Homo sapiens: one gene and its partners. The protein of the gene in region 3 purifies or fractionates together with the protein of the main gene of each other region. This does not show direct contact. Each region holds a gene or a part of one and is shown on either strand. Other genes may lie near its edges.

Region 1 (3,500 bases), about 14 Mb from region 3:
AAATGAGTCCTAAAAAGATAAGTGACACTACACTGAATGTTAAAAAGAATAGATATAGGTGTCAAAAGTATTACTGTGGTGTGGCAAAATGATTATAAAAGATTGTGGAGAAGTCATAAAAATCTAGAAAGATTTTGCACTCAAATTGTTTTGTAAGTATCTAAGTTTCACTGTATTTTAAATAATCACAAAATGGAATTACAAACTGGAAATCTACTTATGGATGTTGGCAACTTTCCCATGAACAACAGCTTTATCTATAAAAAGAGGATGGCATACTGTCTAACAGGAGAGGGGAGATATTTTTGAATTGATATCCTGGAGCATGATGAAGGCTTTGGTCAATCAGGCAACAGGGCTGAGGAGTATGGACCCTGACAGGAGGGATTTTAATGGGAGTAAGTAGAGTTGCCAGATAAAATACAGCACATTCAGTTACATTTGAATTTCAGACAAACAAAAATAGTTTCTTAGCATAAAACATTTTTACTAAAAATATGGCCCATGCAAAATTTGTTTTGTATTTATGTGCTGAATTTGGCAGCACTAGGAATAAATAGATTTCTTTCTTTAAAAAAAAAAAAAAGCATCCTGACTTGAGACATCTGGGTGTCTGGCCCCTTTTAAGTTAGGAAATGTATCTTCCCACCACTGCTGACTTACCGGGCTTGGCAATTTCTTTCCGCTCTGTCTCCTGGAATTGGGTGTCTGGGATGACGGACTTCGTGGAGATGGATTCTCAGCCTTCCGTTTGGCTGCCATGGCCAACAACCAGTTTTTATTCTCTGGGGAACTATTCTCTTTGCCTACCATTTCAGACCCTTCTCCACAAGGTCTCAAAGGAAGAGGTAGCGTTCCACAGCTTTCTGAAGCATACGGACTGATAGGAGACGGAGGCTCTGAGATACTGGTACCAGCTCCTTCAATTTTGCTTGATTTGGTAGGACCTAGAGAGTCCTTACTAAGGTCTTCCTGGTTACCAGCAAGGCAGCACAGATCCAAATGAAGATTTTCAACTTGGCCATCAAGCTCAGTCACACAGTTACAACTCTTCACACACTTTTGTTTCACACTCTCCAGACAGCTTGAGTCTAGCCTCCTCTTTACTCTATTTCTAGACTCAGAGCAAGCCTCTGCTTGGGATGACTTCTGGCTCACAGGAATAAGGGCTTTTCTCGGAGACATGATCTTGGTCTCCGAAGCAGGTGGAGTGATGGGTGGTGATGAGGAAGGTGTTCGGGTCACCCAGTTTCTAATCGACATCTTGAAAGATGAAGGTGGCTTGGGAGAGACGGAGGAGACAGAGCCTCTTCTGTTGATGGGAGACCGGGCCTTGGCAGGAGAGGTTTTAATAGAGAACGTAGGAGTATTTGAAGGAAGAGGGAGGTCTCCAGCACAGCTTGGGGCACAAGCTGCGGATGACGGGGAAGAATTGGATGGATTGCACTTTGCCCTGGGGGCTTTGGCAGGAGTACTCTGGCTACTCGTTACTGTTACTGAAAAAGAGGAGAGGATCATGAAGATCAGAAGTGAAAGCCATACAAAGTCCCTAAATTCTCATCAAGAAAAATCATAGCTAACCTAATCATCTAAGGGTCAATTTGCCAGTAAGTAGGTATACATCACTTGATTCCAACCACACCCTTTTATCATTTTCCTTTCTCTTTTCCAAGTCACCAACCTCCCAACTATCCCATTATAAAATATATACTTGTAAAAATCGACAAAATACCGAAAAACATAAAGAGAAAAAATTTAAAGCACTTACGTAAACCATGTTTAGCATACTTTCTATATTTGTGCATGTGATACATACTATACATCTCAACTTTTTTCTTTACAAAAATGAGACTGATTTAAGGGGAAAGTGGCAGATAGGAGGCAGGACTAATTTGCCACTCAGACAGACAGAACAGCATGTGGAGACTCACATAGTGAACTTTGGCTCCAAGAACTATCACAGGAACATACCAGAAAAAACAAAAGAATTAACAGATCCTTTGAAAGAAGTGGCTTGCTGCTGCAAAATCCACAAGACAGCAGAAAAATTGAGTGCCCAAAGTGTGAGAGGGCTCCCGAAGCTGTGTGCTTGGTCGAAGAGGACAACCATTCCTGATAAGAGGAGAATCGGTCTTCAGTCAAGGGTATACGAGTAAATGTGCTCCCCTGCTAGAACCTCCAAACAAGCTCTCAAGGTCCAAAGTGTGAGAGGGTGGCTGGGTGTGGTGGCTCATGCCTGTAATCCCAGCACTATGGGAGGCCGAGGTGGGTGGATCACTTGAGGTCAGGAGTTCAACACTAGCCTGGCCAACATGGTGAAACCCTGTCTCTACTAAAAATACAAAAATTAGCCAGGCATGGTGGTGTGCACCTGTAGTCCCAGCTACTCAGGAGGCTGAGGCAGAAGAGTTGCTTGAACCTGGGAGGTGGAAGTTGCAGTGAGCCAAGATCGCATGCACTGCACTCCAGCCTGCCTGACAGCGAGACTCCGTTTCAAAACAAACAAACAAACAAACAAACAAACAAAAAACAGTGTGAGAGGGGTAAAGTCCACTTCTGCACACATCCTCACTGAGGATCCAGATCATGGGAGAAGGAGAACTGAAATGAATTTAGAGAGCCAAACAAAATATAAAAGTAGAAGCAGCAGCAGGAAGAGCCCTGTAGGCACTCCTGGTCCCCAGGGAAACCATTTCTGACTATCTCACAGGGGTCTTTGGAGAGGGCAGCCAATGGAATTGGGGAAGGACCATAGGGAGAAGGAGACTTTCAGCTGAACTTTGTAATGATTTCAACTGAGCGTGAATTTTCCTGGGCAGAATCTGCAGGGGGATGGGACAAATAGGAAGTGCAGATATGAGCACAGAAGCTGTGGCAGGCAGATGGACAAGGCCTAACAGCCCTGCTTGCTTTCTCGGCGGGGAGTTTTGTAGTCTAGGGCAAGATCTCCACCCTGTGCACTGGAGGCATGGATATAAATTTGGTTCTGTTGGCTGTTGGGGAAGCACTGCAGGAGTGAGACTGGCCTTGCTGGCTGTGGTCTGTCACTGCCGGCTTTCCCCTATTTCCCTGGTGATGTGTATGAAGCAGCAGAGGCAGCCATAATCTCCCTTAGAACGTAACTCCATTGGCCTGTTAACCACCACTCCCATCGCCCAGAGGCCACAGCAAGCCCTGCCCAAGGAGTCTGAGCTCAGACACACTATCCCTGCCCCCACCAGATGGTCTTTCTCTAACCGCCCTGGTAGCCGTAAACAAAAGACAAAAACTCGTGGGGCCCTGCTCATTGCCTGAGAAGCCCGAAAACCTATCCAGGAAACCGTAAGGCAAGCTTATATCCCCCGCTATACTACTGCAGTTGATACTCTCTTGAAAGTGCCACCTCCTGGCTGGAGGCCAACCAATTCAAGCCATTACAGCAATTCAACAGAACAACCCTGCTCCAAGAAAGCAGAAAATAACAGCTAATTCTACTGCCTGTAACATCTTGGCCAACCAGA
Region 2 (3,368 bases), on a different chromosome or scaffold from region 3:
CCTCCACACCGGCTTAACTCGACCTCCTTCCCAAGAGGGGGTGGCCAGGGCTAGGCTATGCGCCTCTGCTGCAGCGTTTGAATATTGGCCCCTGTCTCACGGGTTACTGATTAGCTTGGGCTTTCAAGCCGTAGGAGGAAGCTCTGGCAGTTCCTTTAAAGGTGCTGTGGTCCCCGTTCCTGGGTGGGGGTGGGGTTCCAGGAAATTGCCTGCGGTGCCAGGCAAACCAAGGTGTTGCCAGAGTCTGGCCGAGGGCTAGAGGAGCTGACGAGGTTAAGGGGCCTGGTGGTGCTGGGGACAAACACTGTGGCTGCAGCCCTCACCCTCTTTCGGCGCCTCTGGAGCAGCTCTTTATAGCTTTCCTGCGGCGAGGTGACTTTCTGGTGGCTATAAGGCCCGACTCAAGGAGCTGCTCTATAGGAGGCCCTGAGGGAGCCAGCCCTAGAAGGTCCTTGGCCCCTCTGAGATTTTGCTTTTGGGCAATCCAAAGGACATGTAGAGAAGTCAAGCTGGTACATGGTATTGAAACACTTCAGGGCCCTCAGGTTGTCCCCTGGACCTGCGGGTAGGAAACCGGGAGAGTGGGTTCAGCACTACTGCTCACTCCCCTAAAGATCAAAGAGGATGCCGCTCCTTTGCATAATGAAAATGAAGTCTTTGTACTTTGATTTGGAGGGGCCGATTTTAGGGCAAAGTGTCTCATCTAAACAGCCTCCCTCAACCTATGGGAGTGATCACTCAGTACCCCTGGGAACATTTATTTATGTTCCCCAAACCCAGAGAAACAGAGTCCAGGACGAGAATTGAGTTGAAATATTTTCATCCCACCCCACCCCAGCCAAAGTTGGGGGTGGTGGGAGAAGGTGCTCATCACCTCAAAGAGCTGAGGGAGAGGGCTTTATAGCTTAGAGGAAATTGGAAGCCTGGACAATGTCTCAGCACCCTCCCACACACACCACACCACACCACACACACACACACACACACACACACACGCAAATATCCCTCCTGAGGTTACCTATCAAGAATTTTACTCCCGAACTGAACACAACTTAGGAAACATTTTCCTGGGAGCTGGAATGTGTTAGCTTGCCCACAGGACTGCAGACTCACAGCATAGAAAATTACAATTATAAATCCTGCCTGTGGGGTATCTGTACAATCCCTCTGTTATGTACTCAAGAATTGGTACACACTTCTATCCATCTCTCTGAACACACACTTCCTCATTGAGGCAGGGAGAGACACCCCAGACTGGCGGATGGCTGAGCCCGCTGTGTATTTACATATTCCCCCAAGGAGACAGACAGAGGGCGGTGGACCGAACCACAGACAGATTCGTAGGGATCTGGCTCCAGAAAGGAGTCGGTCTCTGGCCTGCCCTGCCCGCCTGCTCTTTTTCCCAAACAAACGGATCAGACGAATAAACGCTCATAAATACCTCTGGGCTTAGATAAGAGCGATGAGGCGCTATTTTCTTTCATGCCCGACTCCAGGCGCCCAGGCCCGCCTGTAGTGGCTCCATCTCCAGACAAGCAACCTGCAGAGGTGAGGTTAATTTGGGGGCTGTGACTCTAAAGATAAGGCAATTATTTCCCTGCTTCTGACACAGGGAAATGCTCCCTTCCTCACCAGATCTTATTTTGTTCAGACTTCACTGAGAAAACCACACTATTTAGTGCTAGGATGGAGACATTGTGGGCAGGGAGGAGGCAGGGAAGGCTGAGGCCCAGGGCTCAGCCTCAGCAGTAGGCAGGGAGGTGCATGCAGGTACTCTCTCCCACTTTTCTCCCCCTGTTCAAATGGCCCCTAGTCCTCTCTAGAAGCAAGCCCAGCCATACCTAGATATGGAATATTTATCCTTCTTCATTATCAGGGGGTTTAAATTTGTTTTCTTAAATGCTTATCAAACACTCCCACAGAGTCAGGTTAGGAAGTAATTGGAGGCCATCTAGGGATGGCTATTTTGCCATTAAGGTACAGCCAAGAAGTTGCCCTGAGTTTAGAGAGCCTTGGAGACCACGTTGCAACCAAATAAGTTCCCACCCTTGGTGATCCAAGCTCAGTCCCCTGCCACCTTCCCTAGTGTCTTGTACCATCTTCAGTGGGCAGAACTTGGCCAGAAAAAGGAGCCCAAAGGAAGGACAAGGCAGAGGAGGGTCAGCCTGGCCTGACATCTGACTTTGTTCCATGCCCTGGCCCCTTCTTGTCCCCAGGTGTGAAGGTTGTCACCCTTCACTACTTGGCCTGTGTATGTATATTAGAATGTTGGGAATGCACTGTGGCCCTGTCTCCCAGCCTGGGCTCAATGCTTATTTTCCTTGGATGAAAGAGCCAGAGACATACATTCTCTGACACACCTAAATTTGTAAGGCGGCAAAGCTGATGATACAAACACGGGGTGTGGGAGGGAATTGTAGCGATGCTGAGATACAGACAGAAGGGAGAGGGGATGCTGGCTGATGGCTGGAAGCAGCCTGCTGAGTCCCCAAGAGAACGCAAACGACCTTCTCTCCCTATCAAACTAAAGCAAAAACCAAGTCTTGGGAAAGAATTAATTTTAAAAAGAACTGGCAGCTCCTACAGAGACTTAGAAGAGGAGTGAGGATGCATTTCTTCCCAGTGGTCTCTGACTGCCTCAACTATCAGGAGGGTTCAAAGCCCACAACTGGAAGAAGAATGATTTCTTCCTTGTGCCCAGATTTACTGGGACATCCCTGATTCCTGAAAATCCTATAGCCCAGGCTATTCTTAAGTCTTTTGGGATTGTAGAGGGTACTGGAGTGAGGGTTGCAGGCAGGATAGGGATCAGACAAATAAAGCCACCTAGGCTGAGGGATACCCCTCACTCCTTCACTCCATATCACCAAGTGAGGAGAGGGCTAGTCCCTTTCCCCAGTGCCCCTTCCCCTGCCAAGGGTGAGCAGCTGCATACTAGAACCAGGCAGAATGTTTTGGGCAGCCACCCTCGTCGCCGCCTTCCAAGAAGCTCCTAGTCTAGCCACAGAGTCAGAAGGGGAAGCTTGGGCTCAGTCCCTCCTGCCAGCTCCTCCTCTTCTGGGTCTTCTAGGCAGTGGGATCTGGCCTGCCCCCTCAGACCAGAAGGGTTGTGGAGAAGCAGGAACAATAAGCCGAGGCTTGGAGGAGACAGAGCAGATCTGATAAACAGGAAAAACGATGTTCAAAACCTGGGGAGGAGGGTGTTTCTTCTTTGCTTATCTTAGCGGAGAACTCTTCTCACCTTCTACCGACACAAAACCCTAGAAACAAACCTTCTTTAGTTCTCTCTCAAGGCGATTCGGAGACATTTACCCAACCCTCCCCGGAGAGAAGGGGTCGAAGCAACGCAGGGGTTAACTTTTCTGAAA
Region 3 (3,500 bases):
AAGGTCAGGAGTTGAGACCAGCCTGACCAACATGGAGAAACCCCATCTCTACTAAAAATACAAAATGAGCCAGGTGTGGTGGCACATGTCTGTAATCCCAGTTACTTGGGAGGCTGAGGTAGGAGAATTGCTTGAACCCAGGAGATGGTGGATGCAGTGAGCCGAGATTGTGTCATTGCACTCCAGCCTGGGCAATGAGAGCGAAACTCCATCTCAAAAAAAAAAAAAAAAAGGGAAAAAGAAAAAGAAAACTAATTTGTTGCCAGGAGACACAAAAAATGCTATAGAAAGTTCTTCCGTCTTAAGGGAAAGGCTATTAGATCTTTAAGAAGAAATGAAGAATATTAGAAATGGTAAATATGTGAATAAATACAAAAGATTTTATTTTTTCCTCTTAATTTCTTTAAAATACATATCATTATTTAAAGCAGAAATTGTAACTTATGACAGGACTTACAATATTTAAATATGTAGATTTAATATGTATGACAACTACAGCATAAAAGACAGGTATGATAAATGGATGTACATACTTACAAGATTTCTACATTTTATGTGAAGTGGCACATCAACTCTAGGTAGACTGAAAAATTAAGAATGTATATTGTAATCACTAGAACATCCAACTTAAAAAAATTATTAAAACAGTATAGCTAAAGAGCCAATAAATTAAAATACAATTATAAAATAATCTTATCTAAACAGGAAACATGTAAATTAGAAACCTATTAATAATTACATTTAATGTTAAACTTATTAAAAGATACAGAGAGAACAGATAAAAATGCAAGTCTCAAGTATATGTTGTTTAAAGAAACTACTTTAAATAGGCACAGAAGCACAAAGTAAATTAATAGAAAGAGGTATACTGTGCAAACACTAAGCTTAAGAAGGCTGCAGTGGCTATATTCACATAAGATAAAGTAGATTTCAAACCCAAATTACCAGAGACAGAGGGAAATTTCATAATGATAAAATGGTCAATACATTAGGAAGACATAAGTTATTAGAGCTTCATACAAAAACTGGTAGAATTTAAGAAATAGACAATTCCACAATCATAATTGAAGATTTTAACATCCTTTCTCAGCACCTGATAGAAATAAACAAAAGGATCAGTAAAGACATAGAAGATCTGAACAATACTATCAACCACTTAATCTCATCGATATTACAAAACATATTAACCCAACAATTCAAATTACATATTGTTTTTCTTAGAGACATGGTCTCACTATACATTGCCCAGGCTGGTCTCGAAATGATCCTCCCACCTCAGCCTCTCAAATTACAGATTACAGCTGTAATCTCAGCATGTAATCTCATGCTGGATTACAGGCATGAGCCACCACACCTGGCCTAAAATACGCATTCTTTTAAACTGTGTATGGTACACTCACCATGACAGACAACATATTGGGTCATAAAACGAGTCTCAATAAAACTAAGAGGATTGAAATCATAAAGAGGATATTTTCTGACCTCAATGGAATTAAAGTAGAAATCAGCAACAAGAAGATATTAAGAGGAAAAAAAACAAATGTTTGCTGATCAGACAACCCACTTCTGATAATCCATGGGTCAAAGAAGAACTGAGGGAGGAAATTAGAAAATAATCAGAGGCTGGGCATGGTGGCTCACACCTGTAATCCCAGCACTTTGGGAGGCCAAAGTGGGTGGATCACCTGAGGTCAGGAGTTCGAGACCAGCCTGGCCAATGTGGTGAAACCCCATCTCTACTAAAAATACAAAAATCAGCCAGGTATGGTGGCTGGAGCCTGTAATCCCAGCTACTGAGGAGGCTGAGGCAGGAGAATCGCTTGAACCCAGGAGGCAGAGGTTGCAGTGAGCTGAGATCGTACCATTGCACTCTAGCCTGGGCAACAAAAGCGAAATTCCATCTCAAAAAGAAAAAAAAAAGAAAATTAGAACTGAATAATAAAAATACGACATAATAAAATTGTAAAGTCGCAACTAAAGTAATGCTTAAAAGAAAATGTATAGCTTTAAATATGTATTTTAAATAACGTCTAAGATCAATGACCTAAGGCTTATCTTAAGGAACTAAAGAAAAAAGATCAAAGGAGACTCAAGCTAAATAGAAGAAAGAAAATAACAGAAATTAATTATATAAACAATTGAGAAAAATAAAACCAAAGGTTGGTTCTTTAAAAGTTATATCGTCGGCCAGGCACGGTGGCTCACGCCTGTAATCCCAGCACTCTGGGAGGCTGAGGCGGGTGGACCACGAGGTAAAGAGATCGAGACCATCCTGGCTAACACAGTGAAACCCAGTCTCCACTAAAAATATAAAAAATTAGCCGGGCGTGGTGGTGGGAGCCTGTAGTCCCAGCTACTGGGGAGGCTGAGGCAGGAGAATGGCATGAACCCGGAAGGCAGAGCTTGCAGTAAGCCGAGATCGCGCCACTGCACTCCAGCCTGGGAGACAGTGTAAGACTGTCTCAAAAAAAATAAAATAAAATAAAAAGTCAGATCAGTAAAACTGATAAACCCCTACCCAACCTGATTAGGAAAGTGAGAACAGAAATTACCAGTATCATAATGAAAAGGAAATTATCAACACAGCTCCTAAAGACATTAAAAGGGTAAGAAGGGACCATTATAAATAACCTTATGTCTACAAATTTGATAACCTGGGTCAAAAGGATAGATTTCTTGGATAGATTCATTACCTAAATGACACCAAGATCAAACCAAAAAATGTGAATAGCCCTATATTTATTAAATACACTATAGAAAACCAGACAAAGAAAATTTAAGGCCCAGATGGTTTCAGACATTAATTCTACAGCCCTGACAAGGAAAAAGGGGATAGTTAGAATTGGGTTACTAAAAAGTTAGCTTTTAATATCAACAGGAATACTGGTCAAGAGTCCACATTATGCAGGTTGTAAATGGTAGACACTATAAACAAATAGGAATCAGCTCTGATGATACTCATTTTTTCTTCCCTTTCAAAGGCTTGGCAAATAAAGCCGGGTCAATTTGCTCCTTTGCCAGTCCTCTGACAGAGAAGAGTCTTGCTGCCCGCTCCTGCAGAGTGCCCCCACATTTCAGTCCAAGGGCCATCAGTTCACATTTGAGCTTCTCCAAACCCAGCAACTCCAGTTCTGCAACAGAGGTGAACGCCAATAAATCTATAGTTTCCTTATCAATAACCTGAGGGAAAAAAATAAGAAAATATTTAAAACAGGCTCCTTCCTCTGAATAAAGACTCTTTAACTGTCAACTACATTTCTTGAGAAATTTTCATTTAATTTGCCATACCTTGCAACTGAATTTTAATCATCATCCATCCACATGTTATTCCATAAGTATTCTCAACACACATAATAACTAATTTTTCATCTATACATTTAGAAACAAGCATTCAGAACAGTAACAGAAGTATAGCATTCCCAAACAGATTTTTAATATTGCTTTCTTTTCCGATTTTTCTAGTAAACATCTAAACAGTAAAATATAGCCAGCCTATCCCC

Evidence for each region. The genes of interacting proteins can lie anywhere in the genome.
Region 1: the proteins of SDE2 (region 3) and DTL purify together in Homo sapiens (affinity purification with western blotting, with the first as the bait; one study listed by BioGRID). This does not show direct contact.
Region 2: the proteins of SDE2 (region 3) and HOXB6 purify together in Homo sapiens (affinity purification with mass spectrometry; one large-scale study listed by BioGRID and IntAct). This does not show direct contact.

What each region holds. Positions count from the first base shown.
Region 1 is NC_000001.11:212,098,248-212,101,747, reverse strand, and holds part of DTL (denticleless protein homolog), read right to left. Parts: intron 1,497-3,500; coding exon 664-1,496; intron 1-663. UniProt on the Homo sapiens protein: Substrate-specific adapter of a DCX (DDB1-CUL4-X-box) E3 ubiquitin-protein ligase complex required for cell cycle control, DNA damage response and translesion DNA synthesis.
Region 2 is NC_000017.11:48,598,619-48,601,986, reverse strand, and holds part of HOXB6 (homeobox protein Hox-B6), read left to right. Parts: intron 1-323; exon of another isoform or gene 324-559; intron 560-1,441; exon of another isoform or gene 1,442-1,540; intron 1,541-3,368. UniProt on the Homo sapiens protein: Sequence-specific transcription factor which is part of a developmental regulatory system that provides cells with specific positional identities on the anterior-posterior axis.
Region 3 is NC_000001.11:225,982,344-225,985,843, forward strand, and holds the end of SDE2 (splicing regulator SDE2), read right to left. Parts: intron 3,181-3,500; coding exon 2,959-3,180; 3' UTR 359-2,958; downstream 1-358. UniProt on the Homo sapiens protein: Inhibits translesion DNA synthesis by preventing monoubiquitination of PCNA, this is necessary to counteract damage due to ultraviolet light-induced replication stress.